Regions from separate parts of the Homo sapiens genome. Here region 2 is linked to region 1. A link means that fine-mapping ties the variant in region 1 to the expression of a gene that starts in the linked region. Tissue or cell type: whole blood. Region 1 holds a variant in brackets; the other region holds the start of a gene. All regions are shown on one strand. Distances are between the middles of the regions. Region 1 overlaps SLC9A9 (solute carrier family 9 member A9). Region 2 holds the start of SLC9A9 (solute carrier family 9 member A9).

Region 1 (16,083 bases):
GAGGTACCATGGCCACTTTTGAAAGCTTGCCTTCAGAATGCACCACGCAAATACTAACTTCCAAACTTTTGATTATGCACCCACCAGTGAAATGCGTTTGAGAATATATCCATATACCTTTTTATTTACAAGTTGGATGTAAGGACTACTGTATCAATATACTCTATACATTATAAAGCAGATATCAAACTAGAATTTTTTAAAAGGATGAGATAAAATGAAATATAAACAGAAGTTCCAGTATGTCCTTTGCACACCAAAATCATCCTTTCCATTCTCTAAGATATGGACACCTCATCTTAGAGAACAATATAATATCTTATATTTTATTAAAATTTTATTTTTATTGTAACTATTAAATATTTTTGATAACATCTACCTTTAAAAATTCCACTCTTTTCTGAAATCTTTTTTAATGTTTAATTTTTAATTTATTTTTTAATTTTTTTATTTTTTATTTTTGTGGGTACATAGTAGGTATATATATTTATGGGTTACATAAAATGTTTTGATACAGGCATGCAATGTGAAATAATCACATAATGGAGAATGGGAAAGCCATCCCCTCAAGCATTTATCCTTTGTGTCTTTTCTGAAATCTTAAATTCTGTATTCTGAGTCTTGCGGCACCAGTATGTGCATGGGCTGTTGGCCTGACATGAGGATGTTCTTAGGGGCTGATTACCTCTGGGAGAACACTCATCTTCACCCCGAATGTCCCCATGCTACTCTACTACAGTATCCAGGTCTTTTGTCTCATAGGTCTGCAGTCTCATAGCTCCACCTGACATTCCCCCACTGCATTTTAGCTGAGTTGTAAGTTAATATTTACTTCTATAATGTTTTGATTCATGTCTGTCTTCTCAATGTCACTTGTCTACAGTCTCACTAGACTGTGGGCTCCAGGAGGGCAGAGACTAGGTCTGTTTAGTGGTCACATTCATTCCATGATTCCTGGCAAATGGTGAATTCTCTGTGGATCTTGATAAATGAATGGATGATGTAACCAGGTATCTATCATTCTCTGCTTGTCAGTAGCTCCTTTTTACTGCTACTCTGTCCTGTCTTAATTGCTGGCTATTTTGTAACCAAGCATCTAACCTCAGATTTCTCCTCAGGGTGAATTATGTGTGCTCTGTGATGGTTGTTTACTACTCAGAGGACTGAACTGCTAAAAAGTCTGCTCTCCAAATAATTGCGTAGGGATGGAAGGAGGCAGAGAGAGATTCAAGGCAGGGAGAGAGGGAGAGAAAAGGAGCCTGAGCAAAGAACAGAAAACAGAGAGAGAGTGGAAGGGAAAAAAGAGATTTCCCATTGTACTTTAAGTCTGAGTAAATAATATTTACAATGGATCTTTCAATTCTTTTCCCCATTGCTTTGTTCCTTCTAAAATATTAAACTGTGGCAAGAGTGCACATTTATCATTGCTGGTCTCCAGCGAGTAGTTATTTAAAGTTCCACCCAGCTGCATTTCCCTGTTCTCTCCTGAGGTCATTAGGAAGCTCCTGTTTAGTAACAGATACAGCCTGAGGTAGGCTCCACAGACAGCTGGGCACAGGAGGGGAGGGGACCTAACGAAGCTGCACATTCAGCTGGTTGTCTCTTGTTGCCTTTTAAGCTTGCCTGGAGTTATGGAGTCTCCCAGCTGCTCCCTTCACATCCATTTCTGATCACAGGACTAAGTGGGCTCTGATTTATCGAGTTCTGCCCCAGGTTGGGGTGTGTGGAGCAAGAATGTCCTGCAAATTCGAGTGGTCTTCATCTTTCTTTCTAACTGTCATATGATGGGTTCCCAGAAAAGTGGTGGACCCTCAGGTAGTGTGTAGTGAGCAGGAAGTTCATCAAGTGCCCTTGAGATTGACACCTTTCAGTAGAAGAGGAAGGAAGCCTGAGTGGGTAGAGAGAGAAATGAAGCTGAGATGCAGGCCCAACAATTGTGGCTGCCTCCTTGGGAAGCTGTGGAGCTAGAATGAGCCCTCAGAGTCATTCTCAGTTGGATTCAGAAGGCTAGGCCTCTAAAACACCAAATTGCTCTGTTCTTTGATGTGGGTCACTCTGGAAAGTGCATGACGTTGGGTGAGGTGCTTCTCTGCAGTCTTGGCAATCCCTAAAGGGACTGACAGCGCTTGCTGCAGCAAGGACAACACAGCCTTCATTGAAGGGGAGTCAGAGTGGCACAGCACAGTGCCGGGCACACTGACCCCCGCATAGGCTGGGAAGCTTTGTCTAGATTTTAAACCTGAGAACAGTACCTAGATGATGAGTTAACACATAGTTGGAGTAAAATGACTGCAGTGGAGTGCTGGAGCAGGCTTGTCCCAGCTTTTGAGAACTGATTATTAAATATTCAACAACTTTGTGAGCCTGTTGAAAACTTGAAATGGGCCATAATAGGAGTATTTATACCACAGAAATTGGCAAAAGGTACAAATCAGGGCTTGTGAGGTTTTGTTTTTGTTTTTCTCCAGAAAGATGGTTTACAAGCCCATCACTAAATACAGGCTTACCTAATTTCATTTTTAGGAGAATTGGAAATATCTAAACACTTCATTTTTCACGTCCCCAAAAAGTCCTTTCCTACTTGACAATTGTCTTGAAATTTTACTGTTAGAGCATCACATTTTCAGCTCAAACTCTGCCTCTAAGATCACATGGCGAAGTGCATAAAGTTCTATGATTAGATCTAATTGAATCTCATCTCTGAGATGAGATTTACCTTTGGTGGGTTAATTTCTCTGAGCATATTTTAGAGAGTTACTTTCAGAACTAAAGAGAAAAGTTATGTTTAAAGTTAGGCAAGTTATAAATATTAGTCTACTTCCTTTTCTCCTTCCATAACATCTGCCCTTAATGGGCATGGATTTCCCCTTGGAGTAAGAAGTCTGAGGAGCGTGTGATGGAGAAAGATTGGTGTTGCTTTTTATTGTACCATTTAAAGTGGTGCTTAAATGCATTTAAAAATATGCACCAATTTAATTTTAAATCATGCTTTCTGCTGATTTCAGCACACACAGCTTCCTGCTCACCCCAGTCCCCTCAAGGGTGCCTGCTGTGACTGTGGTCCTTGCTGACTCAGCCCTTCCCAGTCCAGCTTCCCCAGGCCAGTTGCTCCCTGGTGAGGTCATGTGATGGGGGAAGCTGCATACACACCTCAAAGCTAAGGTCTGAAAAAGATAATGCAAACTCAAAAAAAAAAAAAATAAGACAAAGAAAGACTAGGATTGAGATGCTCCTGTATATTCTGAAGTGATAGAAAGCAGTTTCTTTTGCCTGTAATAAAAAAAATAGCCAATATTAAGATCTATTCTAGATTGGAAAAAAGAAAGAAATCATTGTTGATGTGCAAAGTTTTAATTGTTTTGGATGCATGGCTCGTGACTCCTGAGGAATGAGTAGCTCTTGGTGAGACGCAGGACCAGGCTCTTCTCACTTGCACCTGTTATTTTCTCTTCTCCTGCTGGTATCATGTCAGTCTTAGACTGAAGTCACATGATTATGTCAATACCACAGCTAGTGAGGGGTAGTAGGGCAACCCCCACATGAATGGCAGGCCCACAAGGGACCAGCAGCAGCCAATCCAAGTGTGCAGAAAATGAGAAGGCCTGGAGTTTGGGCATCTAGGTCCAGGGGTAGGAAACCCAGGATGTACGATATTGACCTTAGCAAAAAGTCACAAAGATAGCAAAGGTGAGTTTGTGCATCAAGAATCTTACGCAAAACATAGAAGAGTTTCTAGCCATTGGTGGTTTGTTGCCATGGCAATGATCTAGAAAACTTAGTTGTCCTTGATGTATTTGCATTCAATGAGAACAAATTCAGCAGCTGAGTGGGTGACCTGAACCCACTTATGAGTAGGAGATGGGATATTGAAGTTAAAAGGCCAATCTCTAGAGCCATATAACTTGGATCAAATGCCACTTACAAGCTGTGTGATCTTAGGTGAGATAATTAACCATCCTATGCTTCAAATTCCTAACTACTTTGTAGGACTATTGTGAATTGCAAATGAGAAAATTCATGTGAAGCACTTAGAATAGTGTCTGGCTCATAGTAAGTGCTCAAAGTATATTAAGTGTTACTTGCTATTGTTGTTATCAACAAAGCAATGGACTTGCAATTAGAAGCTATGATTTGAGTCGAGGCCTTGGCTATTTACAAGGTAGGTGACTTAAGGCAAGTAACATGCCTTGTAAATAGCTAAGGCCTTAACTCTGAGCCTTGGTTCCACCTCTGTAAAAATGAGGTGTGCACAAATACTTAACTCAAAGGGTGTTGTAAAGAAATAAATGAGACACTGTGTATGAAGGAAACTTTAAAACTGTAACAGCCTTATGGAAAGTTTGTTTTTAATTACTTACTATTATGACTAATTGGCAAATAGTAAATGTACCAGGTTATATGTGAGGAAGTCAAATCCTAAACTTCAGCCCCACCCAAATTATAATAATGACAGTGTATTTTCTTTTCCATGGAAATTTTTTTTTTATTTACAAAGGCTTCTCCTGTTGCATTGTCCATTCAATCTCACCATTATTCCATAAGACAAACAAATATGACCCACGCTACAGAGGAGGAACCAAAGTTCTGGAAGCTTAAGTGACTTGGTCAAGTTTGATTTACAACAGAACTACAATTAGGACCAGGGCTTCTGACTCCAAGTTCAATGTCCTTTCTACAACTCCATGCTGCCAAGTTAAATGTTTAGAATTATGTAGATGTTTTGGTCTTAATTCACCACTTAATTTTGCCTGGAGTCATAGGCACTACCTACCTCCAGTGAAATAACAGTGTTTCTATCTGTCAATTTTGTATGTATAATGTTCACAATGGGACATTTCTAACTTCTAGCATTTTAAAGACTTGAAAAGTAATTATAGCTTTATGGTATTCTAGTCTCACAAATTCTCAATGATAACTTGTTATTTTTCTCTACATTGTTCTCCCTTCACTGTTTCTCTGTAATTTAGTTTTGCTTCTCTGAATTTCAATGAAAATGTATATATTTCAGTGATCCTCCTTTTTTTTGAGACAGAGTTTCACTCTTGTTGCCCAGGCTGGAGTGCAACGGTGCGATCTTGGCTCACTGCAACCTCCACCTCCCGGGTTCAAGCGATTCCCTACCTCAGCCTCCTGAGTAGCTGGGATTACAGGCATGCACAACCATGCCCAGCTAATTTTTTGTATTTTTAGTAGAGACAGAGTTTCTCTATGTTGGTCAGGCTGGTCTTGAACTCCCAACCTCAGGTGATCCACCCACCTCGGCCTCCCAAAATGCTGGGATTACAGGCATGAGCCACCGCGCCTGGCCGATCCTCCAGTTTTTAACCGTTAACATTCATAATACTAAGTTTTCTAGTTGGAGGGATTTGCTGCCGACTTCCAGTAATTTTTGAAAAGTGAAAAAACTCAATAGGTTTGGACATTCAATGAGGGCTTATTGCTCACCTGCCTGATTCTGTATTAGTCCTTTTCAGATATTTTACCACACTTAAAAATCATGGCCAGGCATGCAGTGGCTCACACCTGTAATCCCAGCACTTTGGGAGGCTGAGGCCGGTGGATCACTTGAGGTCAGGAGTTCATGACGAGCCTGGCCAACATGGTGAAACCCAGTCTCTACTGAAAATACAAAAATCAGCTGGGCGTGGCGGTGCATCCCTGTAATTCCAGCTACTCAGGAGGCTGAGGTAAGAGAATAATTTGATGCCGGGAGGTGGAGGCTGCAGTGAGCTGAGATTGAGACATTGAACTCCAGCCTGGGCAACAGAGCAAGACTCTGTTTCAAAAAATATATATATATAACAAGTCTGAGTCCCCAGTTCTTAACTTTTTCTTATCTTCCATTTTTCAGCTTTTATTATCCCTTGATCTTTAAAAGATAATTTAAAAAATATATGTGATTTTCATTACTGATTCCATTACACTTGTAGAATAACTTCATAAATGGTAACTTTACAAGATATTCATTTAGAGTGACAAGAAAGTATTTTATCTGAAATAATTAAAATAATCCCACAATATTATGCAACCACTATAAATTTTGGTAAATTTCCAGTCATTTACATATTTTTTTTTCTGTGTAGCTTAAATCAGATGGTCTCTAAAGCTTTGTAACTTGCTTTACTTACTTATTATCATAACCTAAGCCTTCTGTCAGACTTTTAAAAATTAACTGTAATGGATAGAAATGTGCTTGATTTTTTAGTTGTTTCTAAATTTTCACTAATATAAATAATGCTTCAGTGAATACCTATCTGTATAAAGCTTTTCCTGTATTTTGAAACATTAAATAGGCTATCAGATAACAGATATAAAATATTTGTTAGAGTAAATGTCTTCTGGGTCTTTGAAAAAGCACTGGAAAATGGCAGAAGAGCCAACTGAAATAAATGGGAAAAGGATTAATTACCAAATACCTATGAATTTTCCTAGGACAATTGGCTATCAATATGGAAGAAAAAGAATTAGATCCCTATCTCACATCTTATCACAAATAAATCCGAGATGGATTAGAGACTTAAGTAAGAATCAAACTATATAACTTTAGGAGAAAATATATTTATGACATCAGGATAGGAAAATATTTTTTAAAGATATCACCAAAAGCACAAATAATAATATAAAAATGGAATAAATTTTACTACAATAAAATAAACTTTTGGCCGGGCGCGGTGGCTCACGCCTGTAATCCCAGCACTTTGGGAGGCCGAGGCGGGTGGATCATGAGGTCAGGAGATCGAGACCATCCTGGCTAACAAGGTGAAACCCCGTCTCTACTAAAAATACAAAAAATTAGCCGGGCGCGGTGGCGGGCGCCTGTAGTCCCAGCTACTCGGGAGGCTGAGGCAGGAGAATGGCGTGAACCTGGGAAGCGGAGCTTGCAGTGAGCCGAGATTGCACCACTGCAGTCCGCAGTCCGGCCTGGGCGACAGAGCGAGACTCCGTCTCAAAAAAAAAAAAAATAAAAAAAAAAATAAACTTTTGCATGAAAAAGACACCATCAACAAAGTTAAAAGTCAAAGTCTAAAAGCTTAAGGAGATCATGAGAATAGAAGAAAGTATTTGAAATCTAAATAACCAAAGCAGAATAGTAACCAGATTACATTAAGAACTAATCAATAAGAAAAACTAATACTGAGTAAAAGAGATCAGAAAATTCACTAAAGAGATACCACAAAGGCCAATAAATGAGGAGTGTATGTTCTTTTAATTAGTAATGAAAAACTTTAAGATAATGATCATGTGATATCATTTCATGCTTACCAGATTGCCAAAAATTAGAAATTTGTCAATACTAAGTATTGGCTAAAATCTGGGGAAATACTCTTACACTTTACTATGGGAGTGTAAATTGGGTAGCCCCTCTAATTTGGTGATACCTACTAAAGTTGAAGGTTTATATACCTCATACCCCAGCAGGCCCACTTCTAGGTATTTTTCACTTCTGGAGAAACTCTCACATGTATACACAGACTTAAGTACAAGAATATACATTGCAGCATTTTTAGTAATGGTAACAAGAGAAGGGAAAAAAATCAAATCATGATATGTTCATCCCATAGAACATTACACAGCAGTTTAAGTGAATGGATGAGATCACTTGTATATTAATATACATAAATCTCAAAAACTATGTTGAATGTGAAAGGCAAGAGGATGCCTTTTATATTCAATAAACGTAAAACGGTATTTAGGATACAATTTTAAAACATACAAATATACAAAAGTATTTTAAAATTAGGTGGTTGTGGTGGTATGCACCTGGGGTCCTAGCTACTTGGGAGGCTTAGATGGAAAGATCACTTGAGCCCACGAGTTCAAGGTTACAGTGAGCTATGACCACACCACTGTACTCCAGCCTGGGCAACAAAGCAAGACCCTGTCTCGAATATAATAAAGTAAAAATATACAAGCAATACTAACTATGGTTTACGACTACACATATATGAAATACATAAATACAGTAATGGAAGGAAAGGGCACTGACTTCAGGGCATTGATTATTTCTGGGGCTGGGTGAGAAGAGGAGAAACTTCAACTCTAGCATATCATTTAAAACTTGTTTGAGGTGAAGTCAAGCACATACATAAAATAAGAGAAAAACATCTCTGGTTTAGATTTCCAAGCTTGGTGCTGCCTCTGAACAAATTTGACCTTGCACATGTCTCTCGATCTCTCTGGAGGATTATATTAGGTCAGGTTTTTGTTTTGTTGTTTTTGTTTGTTTGTTTGTTTGTTTTTTTGAGATGGAATCTTGCTCTGTCACCAGGCTGGAGTGCAGTGGCACGATCCCGGCTCACTGTAACCTCCACCTCCCAGGTTCAAGCGATTCTCCTGTCTCAGCCTCCTGAATAGCTGGGACTACAGATGCACACCACCATGCCCAGCTAATTTTTTTGTATTTTTAGTAGAGACAGGATTTCACCATGTTGGCCAGGATGGTCTCCATCTCTTGACCTCGTGATCCGTCCACCTCAGCCTCCCAAAGAGCTGGGATTACAGGTGTGAGCCACTGCGCCCGGCGGATATTAGGTCAGGGTTTTAAACCTTTTTTTTTTTTTAAAATAGCAAAAAGCCCTTCATTCAAAGAAAATCTAACAAAAAAGGGGCTTCACAGTGTGTCAAACAGGTGAAGTCAAAACTGCTAAGACAGGAAGGAGGGGGCAATAGTCCCCACTTTCCATTACTGCCACGCTTCTCCCCAACTAGTGGCCTCTAAGGCAGCTTCTCCCTTTGATGGCCTAACTGTCAATGGCACTAAGCTGTTAGTCTGACCCATTTCTTTGACAAGTGCCTGCCATGTACAAGGGCTCTTTGGTAAACACCTGGAGAAATGGAAGAGTGCTTTTTTAATTTTTTTACTATGAAAACCATCCCCTAATTTGGCCAGTCCACAGATTTGAATGTCTTTGAGTAAAATTTCTCCCCATTTTAAAAGCATTAATTTATTAATTTTGCTGCTCTTATCACTTCTTTAATTTTTTTAACTTAGCACATCTTCATTATTTTGGCCCTTACCACTCTGTTTCCTGATGTCCTCTCCTGCCTCCTTCCTTCCCTTTTGTGGCCTTTGTCCTTTTATTCTCCCTCTCCTTTGTTCCTCCTGTTCATCCAAGAGCCATTTATCAGATTCCTGAAAAAGCCACTGCTCAGCCTGCCCTGTGAAAGGCCCAGAGCCCACTGTTCCTACCTTGCCATCACTCATTTTTTCC[T/G]TAACCTCCTGTACCCACTTCTTGGTGTAAGGCAGTCAGAAATGATCAAAAACCACTTCCTAATTATGAAACCCAAAGGATTTCCCCTTGGTCCTTAAACTCCTTTTTTCAGCAGCTGACATCAGAGTAGGGAAGGTAGAGTCGGCTCCTCCCCAGCCATTCTCTCAGCCAGGTCCACTTTTGGGGTTTGCCTTCTTACATCTCTTTCTGTTTATTGAATTTCAGATACATAGTCAATGACTGGGGAAAATTATGTCTCAAATGCAATATTACGAAATTATTCTGAAAAAGTGATGTTTATCCGAAGTTTCAATTTCACTCAGCATCCTGTGTTTGGATTGCTAAACCTGGCAGCCCTGCATGAAGGAGTGGCAGCTCCTTCTCATCCTCCACCTCTCTCTGGCTTTCTGCAGCCCTGGGTTTCATTCTCCTCCTCTCTCTGATTGTTGTCTCTCTCCCTGGTAGGGCCACTGCATCCCCTTCCAGCATTCTGTCCTTGATCCTTGGCTCTTTTTTGTGGCACTCATTTCCCAGATACCCCATCTATGCTCATCAACTCATTTTTTCCATACTGATGATTCTGGATCATTTCTCCTTGGCCCTGACTTTGCCACCAGGCACATATTTCTGAGTGACGTACAGGCACCTCCAACTTAGTGAGCAGAAGCCTCCATGAGCCCTCAGCCTTTCTGACCCCTCTTACTCCTGCTGAGTCAGCTCCTCCTCAGCCATATTCTCTCAGTCACTCACCCAGGTGCAGAAACATAGGTTCCTTATGGAGTTTTCTATTTTTACCTCTATTTTACCCACAAACCCTGCTAGTCCTCCCTGCCATATGCCTGGCTTATTTTAAGGAAACACATGTTGAGTGAATGGATGTCTCCTGGTCTTGTTTCTTTCTTTCCATTCTATCGCAACCACCTTCATTCCCACTATCATTACCTTGAGCTCATTCTGGTAACTGCAGCCTGGCAATGGTTTCCCTTCATCCAGGACAATCTTGAGGTCTCTGCAAACTAATCTGCACAGACATCTTCTTTAAAAATGTATATATTTTTGACTAGGTAATACATTCACATGGCCTGATGTTCAAAAGGTACAAAAGAGTATATGAGAATCTTGAAGGGTTAATTCATTGTCTCTTTTGCCTACCTCATGTTGTAGCCAGCGGATAAATAGATACAGGAATCAGAAAGATGGAGAGCAAAAACTATGCAAAATAATGGGGCTTGGTCTGCGGGCTGCCTTGCTCACCTTTACACCAGAATTAGAAAGACTTACACACCCAGAGAGACCCAACTGGACAGAATTGGCCTCCATGCTGGGCTCTGCTCTTACAAAGTTTGGGAGCGGGAGGAAGAGAGAGGGGATTCACTCATCAAGCAGGCTAATTCCAATGTGAACAGAGGAGGAGGCTGAGAGGTACACACTTAATTCCTCTTCTCCAATTCACCAATCAGACTAGTCACTCTCTATTCCCTAAAAGGGGGTGAATTAAAGTTGGGATCAGGATCAGGGGGTTAAAGCCTTTCCAGTACTCCCCGGCTGGTGTGTTAATGGATCACAGGTGTGTCACGAGATATGGATCTTTTCATCCTTGGACCGAGGATAAGCAGAGCCCCAGACTTGTCTTCAGCCATGAGCACCTTCATCAGAACCCTAATTTCCTTCCAATTTAGCCTCATTGACCCAATATTATCATTTTCTGTTTGTATCATATTGGGGAAAATTCTGGCATGTACTGCTCTAAGCAGTGGTCACCTCTGTATTTACAGATATGAAACCAGCACCGAGAAGGTCACCCCTAGTCCCTTACTCGGTACACAGAAAATTCTTATGCCAAATGCCCTTCTTCCTGCCACCAAGTTCTCCCCTGTCTTCCCCAAAGCAACCAATAGTTACTCTTTCTATACACAGGTAAATATTTCATGTCCTTCTTTAAAAAAATACAACACAAATCACAACATATGCCAAATGCTTTAATAAAATACCATCACATCTCAGCGGCTTAATGTAGTAAATGTTTATTTCTTGTGCATGTCTCAATCCAGTGTGGCTTTTTAGGTCAATGATGGGGCACTGGGTTCCTCTCCTGGAGCCATTAATGGCTCTGACTTCCTTTAATCTAGTCTCTCTGTTAGTCTCTAGGGATTCATAACCGCTGCCGAATGCTCTACATAAGCTGAAAAAGGAAGGAAGGAGAGAAAGCATGGAAAATCTGGGGGATTTTTAGGGACTAGGAAGTGATAAATATTATTTCCGTCCATATTCAGTTGGCCTGAACTCAGTCATATGGTCCCACCTGACTACAAGGAAATGTAGTCTACATGTCTGACCAGGACAAAAAGGAAATGGGTGTTGTGAGGCCATAGAGATTTCTGTTACACATGCCAGACATGCCATTCTGCACCTTGCTCTTTTGACTTGACAATACATTTTTGAGCACAGCCACATTATTTCATAGGCGAGCAGTTTCCTCAGCTTTTTTAACAGGCGCGTTTTATGAATTATATCATAATTTATTTAACTAGTCCATGGTCCAATCATCCTCAATGATTTGTTTTTTCTATTATTTCATCTGCAATAAATACTCTTGTAATTATATTATTCCACACATGTGCAAGCATATCTGCAGGATAAATTCTCCGGTGAGGTGTTGCTGAATCAAATGGTATCAACAGTTAACATTTTGATAGCTATTACCAAATTACCCTTCTTAGGAGTAATACAAAGTATATTTCCAGTAGCCATTTTATTATTTAATTCTGCTTGTGTAAAATAGCTCAACAGGTTTGAGTAAACATAGTTTAAATCCAGTGGATCTGAGAGAGGCCCACAATCTTGGTTGTATCCTCCTGTTGGACTTTACCTTCCCCTCTATTCCTTAGGAACCCAACGTTGTCTATTTCTGTTCCCCAGGTGTTCCTTGTGCCTCATATTCTCAAACCATTGCTTCAATATTTTATTTCATTTAGATTCAGATCTAGTGAACACTTCTTGTTTTTCTTTTCTTTTTCTTTTTTTTTTTTCTTTTTAGACAAGATCTCTCTCTGTCACCCAGCCTGGAGTGTGGTGATGCAATCCTGGCTCACTGCAACCTCTGCCTCCCGGGTTCATGCGATTCTCGTGCCTTAGACTCCAGAGTAGCTGGGATTACAGGCGTGTGCCACTGTGCGTGGCTAATTTTTTTGTTTTTTTGTTTTTGTTTTTTAACTGGAGACCATTTTTTGCCATGTTGGCTGGGCTGGTCTCAAACTCCTGGCCTCAAATGATCCACCCACGTCGGCCTCCCAAAGTACTGGGATTATAGGTGTGAGCCACTGTGCCGGGCCAGTGAACACTTCTTGAAAAATAGGGCTGGGTACCAAGCAGAACCCTTTAAATTCATTATTACATATAATCCTCAGAAGCAACTCTAGGAAGCAGGCATTTTCATGCCCATAGTACGAATAAGGAAACTGAGGCTCAGAGAGGTTAAGTAAATAGACCAAGGTCATCTAACTACTAGGTGGTATATTTTCATTAGGTATTCTGAGAGTATTCTTTTTTCTCTCACTCTGGTGCTTCTCAAACCAAAGCATAACTTAAGGCAGAGGAAAAGAAATGCACACACTTGAGCTGTCCCTAGGTGTGACCCAAAGCTGCCTGAGCCATGATGTTTCCTTTGAAGTCTCCTATTTGTATTAAAAACAGATACAGATTTTTAGTTTCACTTTTTCATATATCTGCATTTATTTTAATATTTTAAATTCCTTGCTACCAACTGTAACTGAAACCCCAGGAAGCTACCGGTGTTCTCTGTGGTTTGGGGAACTCTGGTCCACTGCCCCCGGGGGAGGCAGGAGAGCATGGTTCTGCATGTCAATGCCCCACAAATAGACTCTTACCCATTCTTCAAAATCCAACTCATATGCTGCTTCAACATCAAAATTTCCTGGGGGATCAGCAAGCCCAGAATGGTGTCCCTGTCATAGAAAACTCTGAATTACAGCTTATCCCAGCACCTTAGATGCAATTATACAGCGTCTTCCCTTTCTTGGACTATAACCTTCATGGAGTCAGTCTCTCTATAATATATCTTCAAGTGCTTCGCAGCAAAAAGAGGGTTGTTAAATTTCTAATGAATAAAGCATTGAAGATGATTAACACATTATTGTTAACCACTTAAAAAAAAATCAGCAATTGCAAAACAGCAAGAGCCTACTTCTTAGTTCCAACTTCTCTTAAACACTCCTAAATCTTGCTTAAAATGGTTATGTTAGCCTCATGTTTCCTTGGAAAGCACACATTTCATTTGCCCATGCATATATATCCAATTCCCAGTGATAGTCCTGTCTTATTGATTGACCCTGGGTAAGCCATTAATTTATTCTCCTGTCTCTGGAAAATGGGGATAATTGCATTTGCCAGCTACCACTTGAGAATGTTGTCAGAATTGATGAAACAATGTTTTTAAAAGACCTCTTTGGAAGGAATGTACTACATAAATCACAATCCCTCACTAGGATGGTTGTTTTAGTGATTATTTATTTAGTAGTTCAGTGGAACACTGATATTTCTTCCCAGATAAGTCATATTGAGTCAATGGATTCCTTAATACTCAGACCCAAACAGAATTTTATATCTGTAACCTTCTGATGAACTTGGAAATTAACTTGGTACATATCCTTTCCACTCTGGGAAGTGTTCAAGTTGATTATCTCTGTAAATATATGTCTGGGCCATTGCTAGCCAAATACTGGTGCACATATGAGATAATATTTAAAATTTGCTGCATCCTCGTGAACATATTGATATTTTTCTCTCTCCCATTTTATCTTTAAGAATTGAATTTTAATATTTAAAAATCTCACTGTTTTCATAAGACATACGTAATGTTTCCATCTCAGAGTTGGAGGTCTGTTGCTCCAAATTAGTCACACCTTTTGTAGTATGACAGAACATCTAAAAAGGAAATAGTATAAATTTTAAATTCTAGTAACCATCTATAAATGTACTCTCCAATTGCCACTAGCTACCAGTGTTAAAATTAAAAATTCAGTCCCTCAGTTGCACTAGCTACTGTTCAAGTGTTCAATGGCTCATGTGGCTAGTGGCCACCATATTGTATAGTACAAGGAAAGAACATTTCCACCATCACAAAAAGTTCTATTAGGCAGTGCTTGTCCATAAGATTTGTATCTTAAAAGACTAATGAAAGGCTTAAGCGGGAACATTTTTAGCTTTCTGCTCTTCTCACCCATCCCTCGCTTGGATTTTTTCTCCTCATGTTACAATAATTTCTTTTTAACTGTTTGGGCCTTAAAAACAGCCCCACCTCCAAGGCCACGATTTGAACACAAAGTCTGGGGAGAATGACATGTGGAATTCCCATCTGGAGGTTAGTACAGCAGCAGATCCAGCCATTTCTGAGAAATTGTCTGGGTTTGGAGTTACTCCCAGAACTCTGATTTAGCAGTTCGTAAGCTTACAGCAAGTCTGAAAAGAACACAAATCTGTTTTGTATACACAAATAAATCCTTGCATGCTGCATGCCATTCTCAGCCTGCCAGTTTCATCTGGCTGCTCCAGAAAATATAATTCAATAGGATATTAGTTAACCTGCATGCAGGGAATGGGGCATTTTCATTATTGAAATGTTCTGGTTGAGTGATTAACCCGATTTTTGCAGAAAAACTGCTGAGGCAAGGGATTTTCTGTCCAGGAGGTTGTACCACTGTGTTTCTCTCTTCCAGATGATCACAGCTGCACTGCTTCATCCCTCAAGCATTCAGAAATACATCTCTATGCTAAAAACTTTCAAATATGCATTGATATATTCTCAAAGAAGCCTCATAAAAATAGATCAATAATGGTGTTCCTGATACTCTTAGAAAGGGAACAAACTTAAATGAAAAATTAAGATCTTTCCTCAAATTTTGCACAGTTGTGTAACCTTTAGGAGTTTCTGACAATAGGCAGTTTCTTCAAATGCTATGATTTGAAAATATTCGTTCAAATATTTTATTTTCTTTTGTAATAAATAAAATGTGCTTACTAGATGTCAGGCAATGCTTTGAGGGCTTTACAAATATTAATTCATTTAATTCTTATAACCATCTTAGAATTAGGTACCACACTATTATGTCCATTGTAAAGATGAGAAAACTGAAGGACAGAGAGGTTAAATAGCTGTCCAAGTCAAGGAGCTTAGGATGTGAACCCAGGAAATTTGGCTCTGAGTGTCCATGCCCTTAAACACTACTCCAAATAGTTTATATAACAGAAGGAACCTAGATCATGAAATAAAATGATTTGTTTTTCTCCTCAGTGCCTCAGTTTTCATATATTAAAAGCCAGAGGTCAGTGAGGTAAAAACAGAATCAAAACATTGGTGCTTCTCTTCAAAAGATAATTACAAGCCAAGCTTTGTACACCAAAAGTCAAATGTACTAAGAGCCCAGAATCAATTATAAAATACAAAACCTAGTAGAATTAGATTGATTTTCTGAAAATAAATTAATGTAATACATTGGTTTTAAATATAGGATGAGCAGATCATCGTTTTCAGCTTCTGAGTTGATTGTGGCAGTCCAAAAAGCTTTTTTACTCAGGTTTCTGAATGAGCAAGTATAACAAAAGAAATGGCTGGAGTTTAATCATGTCTGATTCATAAATGTAAGTAAAACAATTTTTCTAGACATGTGGAATATGTGCTAGTGAGAGGAAACCAACGTTTGATGAGCAGCTATGATTTAGCAGGCATTTGACCTTAGGCTTTCTTACTACCTAAGCAAAAAACCTAGAAGTGATTTCTCCCTTTCCTGTTACCCTCAACACCTAACTTGTTGACTGCTCATTCTGCCTCCCCAGTATACTTGGGTACTGCCTT
Region 2 (16,083 bases), 34 kb before region 1:
TGGGAGAGAACTTTATCCATAAAACAGAGTTCCCAGATGAAAAGAACTCCAGGACCAAAGCTGCTGCAGTGCAAGGCTAAAACCCTCTTGGAATTCTACTCAACATGGAGCAATAGAGAAGGTAAAGAGGGTGGGATTTCACAGAACGCATATCATGAATGTGCTTAAAGAGGGAATGGAAGATACATTACTAGGCAGCATTCAAGCCCAGGGAGGAATTGGATCCCCCAAATGTGACAATCAAGAGGGAAATAAGAATACATAAAAAAATTGTATTATGAAAAATTTCAACCACTCACAAAAGTAGAGAGAAAAATACCATACGTTCCCATCATGTAGCCCCAGCAACCATAAAATTGTCATTACTTCCGTTTTAACTTTATCTCATAAGATTTTATGAAGGTATATGTTAAAGGTCCAGGTGTCATATCATTTCACCAATAAATAATGAAAAGGCTTTAAACACACTAGATGAACACAGAGAGGACTGGCAAAGCCTTGCATAAAACTGGAGAAGTATCAAGCTGGCACATTTCAAAATTTTAGAAGAAAGTATTTTAAGTGCCACTGTCTATTGGCAAGACAGTGTATACAAGTGATTTCCCCATTGGTGCGGGGAGCTCAATGTTACAATAAATGGGCAATTTCTCACGTGGATTTAAATTCTCTCATAATGACCTCTGGACCAAATGCCCTGTTGATGTCTATATTGGTTAGCCTGAAACAAAAAATATTATATCTATAACTTTGCATTTCTTCATGTTCCTGCCTTTCCCCAAATTGTACTATTTACAAAACTAGGGACAGAAAATCTGGTTTAGGACAGCTGCTCTAGGAGCATGGGATTTGCTCATGCTTCCTGTTTTTTGGCTCAGCATGAGTAATCTGTAGTTGGGTTCGTTCAACTTTGTCGTTGCTGAAGAGTCTATAGACATTCTAGTGCTCCAGAGATGGCCCCAAACATCACAGCTGGTGAAGAAAATCTGGCACCACGAGACTGAGCCCAATCCAACAAAATTAGAAAGCAAAGTCAGAAAAAGTTCAAATTTAGCTTACAGAAGGAAGGGGAATTTGATTTCAAACTTTAGGGCTTTTTCTCACAATTTAATAATCAAATAACATTCAAATTCAGGTGTTTGAATAGTGTATCCGCAATGTATTTTTTGAGTATTTTTTTAAATGGCATACTTTTTTGCTGACGTGGTTAAACACAACTTGTCGTCAACACAATTAAAAAAAAATTGTATAGGAGGAAATGTTAATCCTTTGGTGTGGGGTGAAGTTAAGGCAATTTCGCTGAGTTCCTATTCTCCCTACAGCCTTCAAGTGCAGCAGTTAGGCCACTTTACACACTAGCCCTAGGAGGATACAAAACACGCAACCACATGAACGCAGGAGCAGACCTGCTCAGACACAATGCAGGCTTGCTCTCCCGAGTGGACCAGCCCTGCTCCAACAGGTTTAAAGAAAAAAGACCTGGGGAGAGTTAACAGGGAGCCCTTCACTCACATGGCCACATTTGTACCAAAATCACGAAGAAGGCCACCCAGGTCATCATAGAAAAGTACTGCACGCGCCTAGGCAACGACTTCTACACGAACAAATGTGTGTGCGAGATCGCCATTATCCTCAGCAAGAAGCTCCGCAACAAGATAGTAGGCTATGTCAAGCATCTGATGAAGCGGATTCGGAAGGGCCCAGTGAGAGGTATCTCCATCAAGCTGCAGGAGGAGGAGAGAGAAAACAGAGACAATTATGTTCCCGAGATCTCAGTCCTGGATCAGGAGACCGTTGAAGTAGATCCTGACACTAAGGAAATGCTGGAGCTTTTGGACTTTGTCAGTCTGTCCAACCTGCAGGTCACTCGACCTACAGTTGAGATAAATTTCAAAATGCCTCGGGGAGCTCTTTGAAGCTGTCTGCAATGCTGTAATATTTTCAATAATCCTGGGACAACAGCAAATAAAACAAAACAAAACCCCCTCCCCCACAAAAAACTGAAAAAACAGGGAGCCCTTCTGCTTCTATCCCTACATTTCCACAGTGGTCCACGAAGGAGGAAACTTCTACCTCCACTTCTGACCTCCTGAAAGAGTCATAGAAAGCATATCCCACTCTTAATCCCTTGGATCAGGGATGGTCAGTGGGTGATCCAAGCACCGCATTGGCTGGGCCATGCCTTACTAGAAGTAAGTTTCCTGTGCTGAGGTGCAGAGAAGGTTGAGCCTTTTATCTCTTTATCTGATCAGTCAAAATGAGCGCAGAAGCTTGAGGGGTGGTGGATGTAGCCCTAAGATCCTCTTTCTGGCTGCTGTCTCTGCAAAAGGCAACCCTTCTTCCCCTCTATAGAGAGGTTGAGTACTTGGAAGTAGATTCTACTGTGCAGATAGATTTTACCCCAGCAAGTGTGTCTCAGAGTATGCTGTCCTCGGCTTTCCTGTAGATTTGAAGTGAGATGTGGGAAGCCTCTGGTCTAAGCCGCATTATCAAACAAAGTTCACCAAAAGCCTTACATTCTTGGTGTACCCTGTTCTTGTCAGCTGTCTATTTTGTGTGTATTCTCTTTTGGTTATCATGGTGGAAAGGAAAGGCCTGAGGTTTTGGCTATTGAATCTCTAACAGAACAATTTTGTTTTTCACTTAGAAATAAATCTAGTTTTAAGAGTAGATTTTGGTGGAATCCAATACTGTTTGAATCTTAAATTCCTGATAATTAATTGGTTCTGCTTTTTCCCATTTCAACAATTCTCAAGATTATAGTGTCATAAAGGACATGGCTTAAGTAAGAAGCTAGGAAGACATTTTTTGTTTTTTGTTTTTTTTTTTTACAGAAAGAATATTCCTTTAACATTTAAAAACTGTATGTTATTTATAGTCCCTCAATTTTGAAGCCCAAATACCCTGCTGAAAAACTTTTAAAATTACCCTTTTAGCAAGGATTCAAAAGGTAAGCAAATATTCATAATTCATAGTCTTTTTAGTGATTTTGTTGAGGAACCTGGGAATCTCGAAGAGCCTCTCCAACAGCTGCTAGAACACAATGTTTCTGTTACAGGTTTAATTGAGATTTATAGGTTCTGATTATATTCTGAGAAACAGTTCTTTTCCACACCTAGAGTTTAGAAATGACTGTCAGTTACTTAGATACTGGAGCTTCTGACTGGATAGTAGAAGTGTCATTATTTGTGAATTCATATTTATCCTAGCCAACAAAGAAACATTCTTGAAGCTACATATGATGTAACCAAAAAATTGTCATTGTATGCTCCATCTTTCTTTGTGAATTTATTTTTTTTCCCCACAGTAACGCAGGACATTTTTATAGAAATAAAATCACATTGTCCTATGACATCCATTAAAACCTGTTGGTCTGGATTTAAATGAATATGTAACCACCTGTTGTTGATTTAAAATTCATTTGTAGGAAGACCTTGGGTGATAGGGTGGGGCACAGTGTATGTGTTTGTGTGTGATACACCAAGTCACAGTCTTCAAAGAGTCTCAGAGTAGTTTTAAACTTTTAACTTAAAACTTTTACTTTAGATATAGTGTTAACATCAGAAAATTGTATTTCAAAGTAAATTGAATTTTCTCTGCACAGGTGACATGTAGTTTTAACTCTGCTGGCCATGGAACATGATTTACCTTCTTATCTAAGAGAACCATAGTGTTTGTCATAGAATTTATTATGTAATTTAGTTGGCTTAAGTGTAAATAAAATTCATCTTAGGTGCTACTTAAGGATTGCTTTGAGCATAGCTATAAATTATTAAAGTTTCAAAGTTCACAAACCATATACAGAATTGAATGAAATGAGGAATGAATGAGGCTTCAATGCAAATTAAAATTTTATTTTTGAAAAATGGTATTTTCTAGTCTTTGTGCAAACTTCTTCACTTGGGATTCCTTGGATCCTCTCCTAAATAAACTACCTGCAAGTCCTTGTCTCAAGGTCTGCTTTGAGGGAACTCACATAGAGACACCCTCTAACAAAGGCTGCCTCAAAGGCTAGATTTTGAATTGATATGGGAAAAACTAAGGGGTGAAACTATCCAAATCTGCTTGATTTTGACATACTTCATTTCAGAAAATATTTCCAAGCGTATTCAGCTTCTCCTAGTCTGGAGCTTTGTCTTCTCTCCTAAGTCTCTTTTTCTCTTTAGAGAAAAATGTAGAGATCCGGGAGAGGTGAGGGGCATGATGCCTTTCTTTGTTAGTTTTTACAAAAATTTTATAATTTAACACATAGTGTCTTTTAGCTAGTGAGGTCAGAATTATTACTTGGTGAGATACAGAGTAGCAGTTATATTCTAAGAAGAATGCAAATTTATCAAGTGGACACTTAATGGGAGATCAAAGAAATGAATTTTCTCAGCTCTTATTTCAGAAATTTTGTGCTAAAACAAGTTGCAGCATGGAATAGCATGTCTCCATCTTTTCCTTCTTGGCCTTGGCTCCAGAGCTCACTTCTTTTCACCCATGAAGTCTTTATCTTGGGTTAGGAGTAGGTTCCAGCCACTGTGATGAGCCCGCATTACCTCTGCCTTATGCAGAACCAGCAGAGACTGAATAAAACAAGAAGCCCGTGAGTGAATTTTTTTTCTCATGATGGGCCCTCCAAGATGTGCAAGACAGAAGAGGGGACCTATAGACTGAAGTTTATTATTTCTATTGAAGAGGTGTCCTTTCTAAAAGAAAAGAGATGATGTGCTGTGGACAGAAAGCTGAGGACAAAAGCAGGGGATTGCAGGAAACAGGGTGAAGAGGGCCTGAGTTGGGAATCAAGGGATTTGCATCTGGGACCCTCCTTATTCCCCAGGCTTCAGCTGTAAGATTGTCCCCCCTTTGATGACATAGGGATGACATGACTGGATCACAGGCATTGTGTCAGATTTGCTTCAACCTGGCTGTATACAGTTTTGGGACTCTTCAATGAAAAAAATACCTAAATAACATCCAGTACGCATTGGGTGGGCCAAGGCCAGCCAAATAGCCTCTAGTGCAGGTGGAAGAAGATTCCCCTTTTCTCTGGTCGTCACTGAGTGATGGACTTCTGAGCATCAAGAATCAACACAGAGATAACAGTTCACAGAGGGAAACAGTGAGGTCTGCACCCATTTTTCCCTCCTCAGAGAATGGCTGGAATGCACTTGTTGGGTAGAAGAAGGAAAGGATCCCCTATCCATGCCACACACATTTCTACACTTGCATTGTTAATAAAATGATTCAAATTCTCTAATTTAACTCGTTTTCAGTGATTTTTAATCTCACCTTCCCACTATAATGAAGAGCAGTGGAAAGAACATGGAGTTGGGGTCACATCCTGGGTTCATGGCCCTGGATCCCACAGACCAGACTTTGTAAAGGCTGAAGGAAAGAAACCAAGCATTGAACAGTGAATTTGGGGTGGGCTTAATATTGTCCAAGTGTTTACTATGGGATTTAATTACCCGTGAAATTTTTGAACTTTCATTTCTCTATGGAAATATACTAATGGGAGGGGTCCATATTATTCAAATTTAGGGGCAACTTATGCTAACATGTGACTTTTTTCAGGTGGGGACAGCTAAGATAGGTCTATGGTGAGCTTGAAAATAGGATAGGGGATGAATTTTGGGATGAGGACATCGTGTGGCTTTCAAGCAAACTTAATTACAGTCCTGTCCTGGCCCATTTCAGAAGCTTGGAGTAGGGTGGGGCAAAATATGAAACTTCCATTTCACTGGTCTCAGAGAGGGATAAATAGCAAGGGAAAGGCCACATGAATGAGACGGTGGAATTTTCCTATAACCCAGGGCCTGTGTTGTCTGAAGTATTCTCTGTTAACACTAGGGGCTGAGAGAGAACTAAGACTGGGCATTGTGGAGCTCCAGGGAGATGGAGAGGGGACTTCTCAGTATGTCTCCCTACCCAAAGCAAACTTAGCTTCTCGACACCCTGACCCCACAATCTTCAATGACCTCTTACAAGAATGAGGAGCTCTCAAGTGATTGGTTAGATTCTGTAAAGCTGATTGGATCCCATTCACTAATGGGTGAGATTACCGCACCATGCAAAGTTACACTGGCCTGGGAGGTTCCACTCTTCAGTTCTTTCTTTCATTGTGGCTGGATGGGCAAGCTGAGACAGGGCACACTGACTGCAACAGGCTGGGCCATCCTGTTCTTTCTCTTTGCTGCTTCTCACTTGCGTGTCGCATCTTGCAGTAGCCAGCAGGTATTAATATTGAGATTTAGGGACAGTCAAGAATTCCTCTTTGGTCCTTGTGCCTAAGTTTTGAGTCCATCCCAATTTTATCTGAGAACCTGGAACTAATGATCCTGGTTACCAGGTCACAAAACAGCATGTAATTTTTAACTGATATTGTTTCTTGTGTGAATATCTCCTTCAGGAATCTCATGAAAAATAGTGATTACTGACAGTACAGGATTTGAGAATTTGAGGAACTTTGGCTGTTAGAGTGACCAAGTTTGCTTGTTTGTCTGTGAGTGAGGGGGTTTCCTGGGACACACAACTTTCAGTAGTAAACCAGGAAAGTCCCTGATAAGCTAGGATGAGTTGATCACCCTGGCTGAAAAGCCATCTAAAGGCCAATACACCCCACATGCAATTTAACTCCTACTGGCTGTGTGACCTTGGCTATGTTGCCAAATCTCCCTGAGCCTTAAATTACTCACCAGGAGAAGGGTGAGTATTTTCTGCACATTAAATTAGACTAAGTTAAATTCCTTGGCATATTTTCTGGTCCATAGTAGACTCTCTATTGTTACATGTTTCCATTTTATTTTCTCACTTACGTTGGTACAGCAAAATAAAAAATGATATTCTAAAAAGAAAACACAAAATAGGAAGAATTGAATTCCTTTTCTGGATGGAGGAATTGGAGATGTTTCCTGAGCCCCTTTTCTTCAAGCTTTTCCCCCCAATGTGAAGCAGCATCAGGAATGAACAATGGAATAGTGAATGTACTCCATTCCTGGAATAAAGCAGGGGTCATACATTCAAACATCTGCAGGGGCCACACGGGGACCATGAATGAAAGAAGAGGGATGAATGGACTTGTGGCAAGCTGGTTGCAAATGCAGCAGGCAACCACTCAGCCCCAACAGATTGTGGCCATGTAAGAAGGGCCCAGTGTGCCAGATCTTACAAGTTTTTCTTGCAAAAAGCCATATGATTTTTTAAATGTTAAATATACTGATTTGAATGTGTTGACATCAAACCTAAAACTTTTTAAAAAGACGTGTAAGCCAATCAAAACATTCTATGGGCCATTAATCTTTTGTCAAGTTGCTTCATTGGTTAAAAGAGTGAAACTGGATGTCACGGATCAACCAGAGAATGTTTATTCTACTCAGATGGAATAATTGTGATAAAAGAAAACCAAAGTAATTCAATAATGACAAAAAACAAAAGGACAGGAAGTTTCTGAATTTGTGTTATCTTGTATATCTGACAACTCGACTGAACCTGTGGAGTTGCAAAATCATAAAGGTAGAACCTGCTAGCAAAGCTCCATGAAATGCTTGCAAGCATTAGCTGATAGGTTTCAAAACAGTATGAATATTAGTCATCACAGATATTCCTGCCAAAAAGGGTAGCGTGTCAGAAGAACATCTGCAGCACACATAAATACCCTCTGCTAAGTTAAACTCAGAGAGGAAATAAGCTTCCAAAGTTGCACAAAGCAAAGATGCTGAAACAGCAGAGCTTTGTATTAAGGGGTTGATAGACTTGCTCTCATGGTGAAACTGTTTGTTGAGGAGGTAGTTAGCTCCCAATAATATTACATGCTTGACCTTTAGCTTTTAGTGACAAAAATTGTTTCAGGACGCATTTGGGCTCAGCCTACTCAATAAGAAATCACATTGTATAAATTGAGCATTAATTGTGTCAAAATGGGGATCATAAGTGATTAATACTCCCAAATTACAATGATATGGTAAAATGAAAAAAAAAATCAGCTAACCCCAGGATATACCCAAATGTGTTATAGGATCAAGTGTTAAAAGCAAGCAGGTCATAATATTTGCTAAGAAAAAAGAAAGAAAAGGAAAAAAAAGCTGCAGAACCCATGGTATTATCTTGAACTATTTTAAAGTAGAAAAATATGAAATCAGACAGGAGCAACCTGCCACATGGAAGATGATCTGAAGAATCATCACTCTTATGATCAGAATCCTGTGAATACAGAGCTTTCATTTCTGGTGGCAGAACCATTTCTCAGTGAGCAACATTGTTTTGCCATAGGACAGAGGAGGTTGTGATCTATTGCAGATTTCTGTGGGTCCTGGATGCCGAGACCAGGAACCCTACAAAGAGAAATCCATGCATGTGGCGTTGCTGAGGATGGCTGCGTGAGTTTCTCTTTCGAAGTAATGTGTTTTGTTTTTTTTCTTTTTTGTCTCAACGTATCCAAACAGTACAGTTGTAGAGATGGGGATGGAATTTTATTTGTCTTTTGCTTTCATTGTTTTCTCTTGTTAAAAGAAAAACAATTGATTTAGAGTTTAAAGGCTGCTCTGCAACTATCAATTATATAAAGCCAAATAGAGTCATATACTAAATCCTTTCTTGCTTCTCAACTAAAAAAAAAAAAAAAAAATCCTGTGAAATCACTTTAGGTTTGCTTAACCAATGTACAGTCATGATTTGAGAGCATAAGAAACCCTATAAGAAACCCTATGCCTTAAGTGAATCCCATTGTGAGATACTTGAGCTATGAGGCGGAAGTTTCAGGCTAAGCAGTGTAATATCTTTTCAGGAGGCTAATATGCTGATCCATTTAGAGCACAGAGGCTGATTGATAACTGTGCTATCAATCCCCATCACTTTGGCAGGTCTTGGTTAGAGAGGAAAGATCTTGCATTTAGGTGAAGTTGAGTCAGGAATTGGCTTTTTGAACTTAGAAAACGTTGCTAGTGTAAGGCTACCTTTTTTATTATTAATCTACAGTTCATATTTATGCAGCTTAAGAAGACTTATTTGGAATAATAAGACCGTGATTCAAGATCTTAGCATCATTGCTTGCAGATTTGTCCAGTATGAAAGATATTTTCATGAGATGAATCACTTAAAGACATTAAGAGTCAGTGATGAAACCACACACTCTCGAGTTTGAAAAGAGACAGGGCTGCTTTAAGAGAGAAACAGGAAGTTGTAACTAGAAGCCATCTGAATACTAAGCCAGGGCAGAATGCTTGTGAAGTAGCAACTAAAGTGGCAGTGTTTCTTCTGAAATTCTCAGGCAGTCAGACTGTCTTAGGCAAATCTTGATAAAATAGCCTTTATCCAGGTTTTTATCTAAGGAATCCCAAGAAGACTGGGGAATGGAGAGACAGTCAAGGGTTATGTCAGAAAAGGATGAGTATCAGTTTCAACATCAGGGAGCGGTGGAGCTGCTTGTCTTCAATTTTTTGCTCATCCTTACCATTTTGACAATCTGGTTATTTAAAAATCATCGATTCCGCTTCTTGCATGAAACTGGAGGAGCAATGGTGTATGGTGAGTGCATAAATTGTGAGATTGATGTGAAACTTGTTGCTTGAGCGTAATTAGAGACTTGTGCTCAGATAGCAAAGTACCGAAACTGGAGAAAATGTGCTGATTGAAATGTCATTAGTTTGATGAAAGGTGCTGCAGCGTAACGAATGCTAATCTCTTTACAGACAAGCCGCCGAAATTTGCCATGTCACGAGAGCAAATGTCACAGTCATGTTCTCACACGGCACATAATGCAAGTCTGTTGACAGATGCGGGTCCATTGTCATGTGGGGAGTCGAGGGCGAGCTGTTTGTTTTTGTAATGATGTTGGGAAGTGATGGCTCTGCAGTCACAAAGAGCAGCCTTCTCTCACTGGCTGCACCGATGAACATTACGAAGTTCTAGAAAAAACATCACTTCAAAATGCCTGGAGTAATTCCTCTTATATCAACTAATTTCAAGAAGAAAACTTGCAGAAACTAACCCCACCCCTCTTAAGAGAATATTGTGTCCAAGTCCTTTTTATTTATACGAACAGTGTCTTATTTTCTTATAATAAAAAGTTATAAATAAACGAGAGTTTCTTTATGCAGTACTTTTTACTTCTTAGCCTGATTTCAGATGTTCTAATTTATAATGATCATTGCTAGTGTTATTTGTTATGTATCTCCTATTTATGTATTGGAGGCCAAGGTGTGGAAAAATATTTAACACCTGCAGTATTGCTCTTTCTGGGCAACTTACCGTATCATTCCTTTCAGAAAGTTTAATAAAGTCTGACAGAGATTATCTGTCTGTACTCTCATCTTTTAAAGTAAAATGAAAGACACCAGTTTTTACTGGTGTTACTGATGAAATAGTTTACTTCACTGCTCTTATCTCAGCCTGATAATGGATAGGAAGTTTGAACACAATGGCAACAGGCAAGGCATTGCTATAATTTATAGCAAATAACATACTTTTATATTTGGGGTTTCCTCATTTTGGAAATCCTGAAACCCTTTCCTAAGCCTGAGATTCAGGGTACAGATCAATGCACATTGTATATGCTAATCCTGTGGTGTCCTGATATTAACAGTGTATAGTTGTGATTTCAGAACCTAAGGAATCCTAAGCCTTAAGTGGATCCCACTGTGAGATACTTGAGCTATAAGGCGGAAGTTTCAGGCTCAGGAGGCTGATATGCTGATCCATTCAGAGCACAGAGTTAAATTCCTTGGTACTGAGGGTCTTTTAAAAATTTTTTGCTTGGGAGTGGGGAGGGACAGCATTAGGAGATATACCTGATGTTAAATGACGAGTTAATGGGTGCAGCACACCAACATGGCACATGTATACATATGTAACTAACCTGCACGTTGTGCACATGTACCCTAAAACTTAAAGTATAATTAAAAAAAGAAAAAAAACATAACCCAAATGCAAAAAAAAAAAAAACCTTTTTTTGCTGTATTGTTTTATTTATTTTTTAAAATTTAGTGGAGACAGGGTCTCACTATGTTGCCCAGGCTGGTCTCCAACTCCTGGCCTAAAGAGATCCACTGACCTTGGCCTCCCAAAATGCTGGCATTACGGGCATGAGCCACCATTCCCAGCCAGTATTGAGGGTCTTAACGGGCACAAGAAAACTCTCATTTAAGAGAAAAAAAAAATCACAATCAGGTGGGAGAGAAATAGCCAAACAAAAAGGAGGGGATGCCATCAGATGTGAAGCCCTAGGTTCCTGTCATTTGCCTATCTCCATCATGAACAGAATTTTTCTCTTGACTTGACTAATAAGTAATCTGCAAGGATATGGAATAGAATCTGAGAAGCCAGAAACAATGTAATTCTTGATATCATATTAAAGGGACATATGTGCTTTAGCAAAACTACCCAGATTTAATAGATTGCCAACCTTTATTAGAGGGAAAGATTTCTTCACATCCCTGAATTTGATTGAACTATGACTCATTTACCAAGTTCAATGGTGGGGATATTGTTTTCGTAAAAGTTTTGATAACCTACTAAAATTCAGTCATGTTTTGCATTCACAATACATACAGTAACTCTTACTTTTGAATCTGAAAAATTCCAGGTTACCTTTAATCCTGCAAAACTCTCTGAAATATTTTTAAATTGTGCTTGAAATAATAAAATAGTAGTTCATTGACCACTGCTATTGAGGTAGCATTTCTCTAAATTGCTGTTCTTAAGGCAGATAAAGGCTTAAAGTTTATGAGTGGAATTAAGTTGGGTTCTCTGATTCCTATTCTTCTTTCATGAGTTTTTTAAAGTAAAAGTTATTGAAAGCAAATTCTGAACCAGTGCAATGTAAAAGGATTATAAAAATTATGGAGATATGCATATATATGTATTCTCTTACTAGAAATTTTGAGTATCTTTCAGTTATCTTGAACTATATAGATCAATGAAAAGACATATTTTAGTGATGTTTAACTTTTTCTTGGCATAGAATCATAATTGTTAGGATGTCAAAGAATTTTAGAGGTTATCTTCTCTATCCCCTTTATTTTAGAGAGGCAGAAGCTGAATCCCAGAGAAGTGAAGGGACTTTCCAAAACTGAATAGCCACTCATGACTGGTCCATGTGCTTTCACTCATCTGCATGTCTTACTAAGGTTCACGTTCACCTGAAAGAACTCTCCCTGTGTTTTCTGAAAGTACTCCATATGGGTGGCATTCATGACTTGTCACATTTCTTCTTCAGGGATGTCCTAAATGTTATATCTTAAATGCTTATTAGGAACTTTCTATCAGTAATGTAATAAAATAGTCTGAAACTACACCAGAGGAACATGATGGGATACTGTAGTAAACACTTTTTAATGATAGGGGAAAGGAGATGCCAAGTGAATTAATTGTCCAACAGCTATAAATGAACTTGGAATCATAGATGGGGAAGGAGCCTTAAAGATCATAAATCCAGCATTCTCATTTTGCAGACAAACAAATGAAGACTTAGAGAGATAAAAGTCGTGTAATTAGTTAGCTGTTGAGGTGGGATTCAACCTCCATCTCTTTAATAAGAGATGCTAAGATATTTAAAAATAAGTAAATTATTGCAATAATTTTCCTGGAGAAAGGATGTGTCTGTGGGATCTAGATGCATCCTCATATGGTTAAGCTTTCAGGATTAGCCAGATTCTCTTTTCCAGGAGGTCTAAAAGAGTGAATTTTCAGCATCCCACATTGTACTATCCCCCTTTCCATTAAAGGATTAAACTCTTAGCTTTTGCAAGAGCAGGGGGGCATGGTGATAACTAATGGGGAAGAAAAGAAACAAAACTATGTTTAAAACTTAAGCTTTTTGAGCTATGATTGTGCCACTTCACTCCAGCCTTCACTCGAGCCTAGGTGACAGAGTGAGACTGTGTCAGAAAGAAAGAAAGAAAGAAAGAAAGAAAGAAAGAAAGAAAGAAAGAAAGAAAGAAAGAAAGAAAGAAAGAAAGAAAGAGAAAGAAAGTTAAACTTTTAAAATTTCTTGTTCTTAAGGAAGTGAACATTTGAGAGTAGACTGTAACAGTCATCTCCGTGCTACAGACACATATGCTTGTAATGAAATATATTTTAAGATTTAGTGGACCTGCACCTAATGCTTATCAATGAATTTGGCTAGCAACTCCCCTACTCCACCGAGTACTGTTCTTGCTCTCACTATTTGTATAATGTATTACTTGTCCTGTATCAAGAATGATAAATGTTTTTCCCCAGCATCAAATTTCCTATAATACTTCAGCCTATTCTGCCATCTGCTTTTCTGCCAGTATTCCTTTGACATGTGTCAAATGTTCTTTAGAAGACTCGATAGATGTTGAGTCTATTTTATCAATGTACCTGAGAGTCCAATTTAAAAATTCTAGAGAACAGGGGCTTAGAAAACAAGCAGTTTAAAAAATGCAGAGAAAAGTGATCAAGCAGAATGTTTAATGTTCTTTTATATTTCTTGTTAGAAATAATTTTCAAGTTGCTAATCTTAAAATATCATATGAACACTTGTAGAGACCAAGAAAAATTGTGTGGCATTTGGCTAGACTCTGTGTCAATCAGAGATTCATATGATACTCCAAATAGTATAAATAATCCATTATATAAAAAATAGGTTTTTCTTATTATTAAGGGTCATAGGAAGCTTATAAAAATTAGTGGCAGCTTTATAACCATATTTTTGCTTCACCAGGAACAGTAATGGGTAATCTATTATGATATTCGATGGTTCTCATTTCAAAATTGAAGGATTAGAATCCATAACTGGTTTAAAATATAAGCCATAATGATACTCATTTAAATTGGACTGGAAGCATAAATGACAATTAGCGGTTAAAGTATTGATTGACAGCAGCTGGTGCACTTAGTACCACTCACTTAGGGCCTGTATCCCCTGTTCAGTGCTCATAAAAGAAATTTGCTCCTTGCTCCCTGACAGCATTAAGAATTCCATTATATATCACTGGGGGCTGCCATACTTTACAGGACATTTATAATCCTGTGCATTTGAGGGCTGGGATCTGAGCTTAGGGACAGAGCAATTTAAACCTCTTAGAATTCTGCCTTTGACTTCCTGGCCTTCCCATAGAAGTTAGTCTGAATTCATGTAAAAATTGTGGCCACTGTTTAGTGGGCACATAACAAATTTCAAGGCACTAAGTTTACATTTTGAATTCATTAAACTATATCATATTAAAGCGTTTTCAGATTCTTTAAGAATGTGCTTAACAGTTAAGTAGGACAAATTTAATTCACTCAACACCAAGTTTTTCAAGATTTAAAGAAAATACAGTTACATAGTGAATCATCAAGGATTGAAAAATTATCTTTTCTGAAAAATCTTCTGCAGGCATTAATTTCTTCCTAGCACTCCCTGCAGGTTCCTCAGGATTAAATTGGGTTGTTGGACATGTTGGCTACACCCTCCTGATCCATTTTACCCTCCTCCAGGACAGCCCAGCCTCCCTGACTGCCAGGCCTATGGGAGATGCTTCCTACTACTTCACCCCCTTCCCGCTGGCTGAAGGTCCTTCCAAGGCTCTACTTATTCCACTGTGGCTTTTTTTATAGAGAAAATATTGATGTGCTCCCCTGGAGATTTAAGTTTCTTAATCTTGATGATTTTTTTTTCAGTAGCTAGATGCATTATTTTGGGCAAGTGATGTTACATCTGGCCTTATTTTTCTCATCTATAAAATGGGGAAGAAAGGAACAGATATCACATGTCTCCCTTCCAGCTGCAAAAGTCCTTCAAAATTCAGGCCAAGACTGAGTTCAACCATCAGGCATCTTTCAGCCACTCCAGCCCAAACCAGAAGCTTTCCTTCCAGAACATGGCAGCCTATAATGATATCCAGTCTGTTCTCTCAGACAAGATTTTAGTTAGTGTTATTTCAGCACTGTTAGTACTTCCTGCTTCTGCTCTGATTTTGCAAGGAGTGCTCAGTAAATTCTGTTGAATTCCTGTCAGAAAGGTGAGGAGAACAAGTTAATAGTGAGGACTGGCTATGTATTCCACAGTTTGCAGAAGCATTTTTTATGAAAACAAGAGTAGCTCTGGTTTAATTTTAAGGGATCTGCAGGAAAGGTAATCACGGTTAGGAGCCCAGCATACTAAACTTCTTCTCCCTTTTGGTGTAAAAAACTTGATTTTTAAGGAACTTCAGAGAGTTGTACAATGTTTTCCATGTGTTAATACATTTGCCAGAGACAGGGAAAATAATGGAAGAATGAAAGTCATACTGCACTCTGTATGTTTTTTTATGTTTTTGGGGGTTTTTGTTTGTTTGTTTGCTTTTTTGAGACGGAGTCTCGCTCTGTCACCCAGGCTAGAGTACAGTGGCACAATCTCGGCTCACTGCCACCTCCGCCTCCCAGGTTCACGCCATTCTCCTGCCTCAGCCTCCTGAGTAGTTGGGACTACAGGCGCCCACCACCACGCCTGGCTAACTTTTTTGTGTTTTTAGTAGAGATGGGGTTTCACTGTGTTAGCCAGGATGGTCTTGATCTCCTGACCTCGTGATCTGCCTGCCTCAGCCTCCCAAAGTGCTGGGATTACAGGCGTGAGCCACCGCGCCCGGCCTGCACTCTGTATGTTTTTAAAAGTTGATTTTAAGAAAATAGCCGGGCCAGGCATGATGGCTCACTCCTGTAATCCCAGCACTTTGGGAGGCCGAGGCAAGTGGATCACCTGAGGTCAGGAGTTCGAGAGCAGCCTGACCAACATGATGAAACTCTGTCTTTACTAAAAAATACAAAAATTAGCCAGGTATAGTGGCGGATGCCTGTAATCCGAGCTACTCGGGAGGCCGAGGCAGGAGAATTGCTTGAACTCAGGATGCGGAGGTTGCAGTGAGCCGAGATTGCACCACTGCACTCCAACCTAGGTGACGGGAAGACTGTATCAAAAAAGAAAAATAAAGAAAAGAGCCTCTATATTTTGGATAAGTAAACTAAATAAATGAATAAACTATATTCTGAATCTCAAAGAAGCTATAGATGAAACTTTACTGCAAACTACTGTGGTGCCTCGAAGGACTCCCCCCTCAGTGTTTGAAAGGCTAATGAATGTGCATATCAAGAAAATAGATTTATGATTCAAATTATTTATGT

The links.
Region 2: it holds the start of SLC9A9, and the variant in region 1 is fine-mapped to the expression of SLC9A9 in whole blood (GTEx, PIP above 0.99).

The regions. Positions count from the first base shown.
Region 1 is chr3:143,808,025-143,824,107 of GRCh38, reverse strand. The region is part of intron 2 of SLC9A9 (solute carrier family 9 member A9); the gene reads left to right. Among named protein-coding and RNA genes, the nearest start is that of SLC9A9, 32 kb to the left of the region's middle. The variant T/G (reference allele first, on the strand shown) is at 9,213.
Region 2 is chr3:143,841,569-143,857,651 of GRCh38, reverse strand. It overlaps SLC9A9 (solute carrier family 9 member A9), which reads left to right and starts at 9,184. Exons shown (of 16, transcript NM_173653.4): 1 at 9,184-9,504. The coding sequence starts at 9,330. It also overlaps the pseudogene RPS17P10.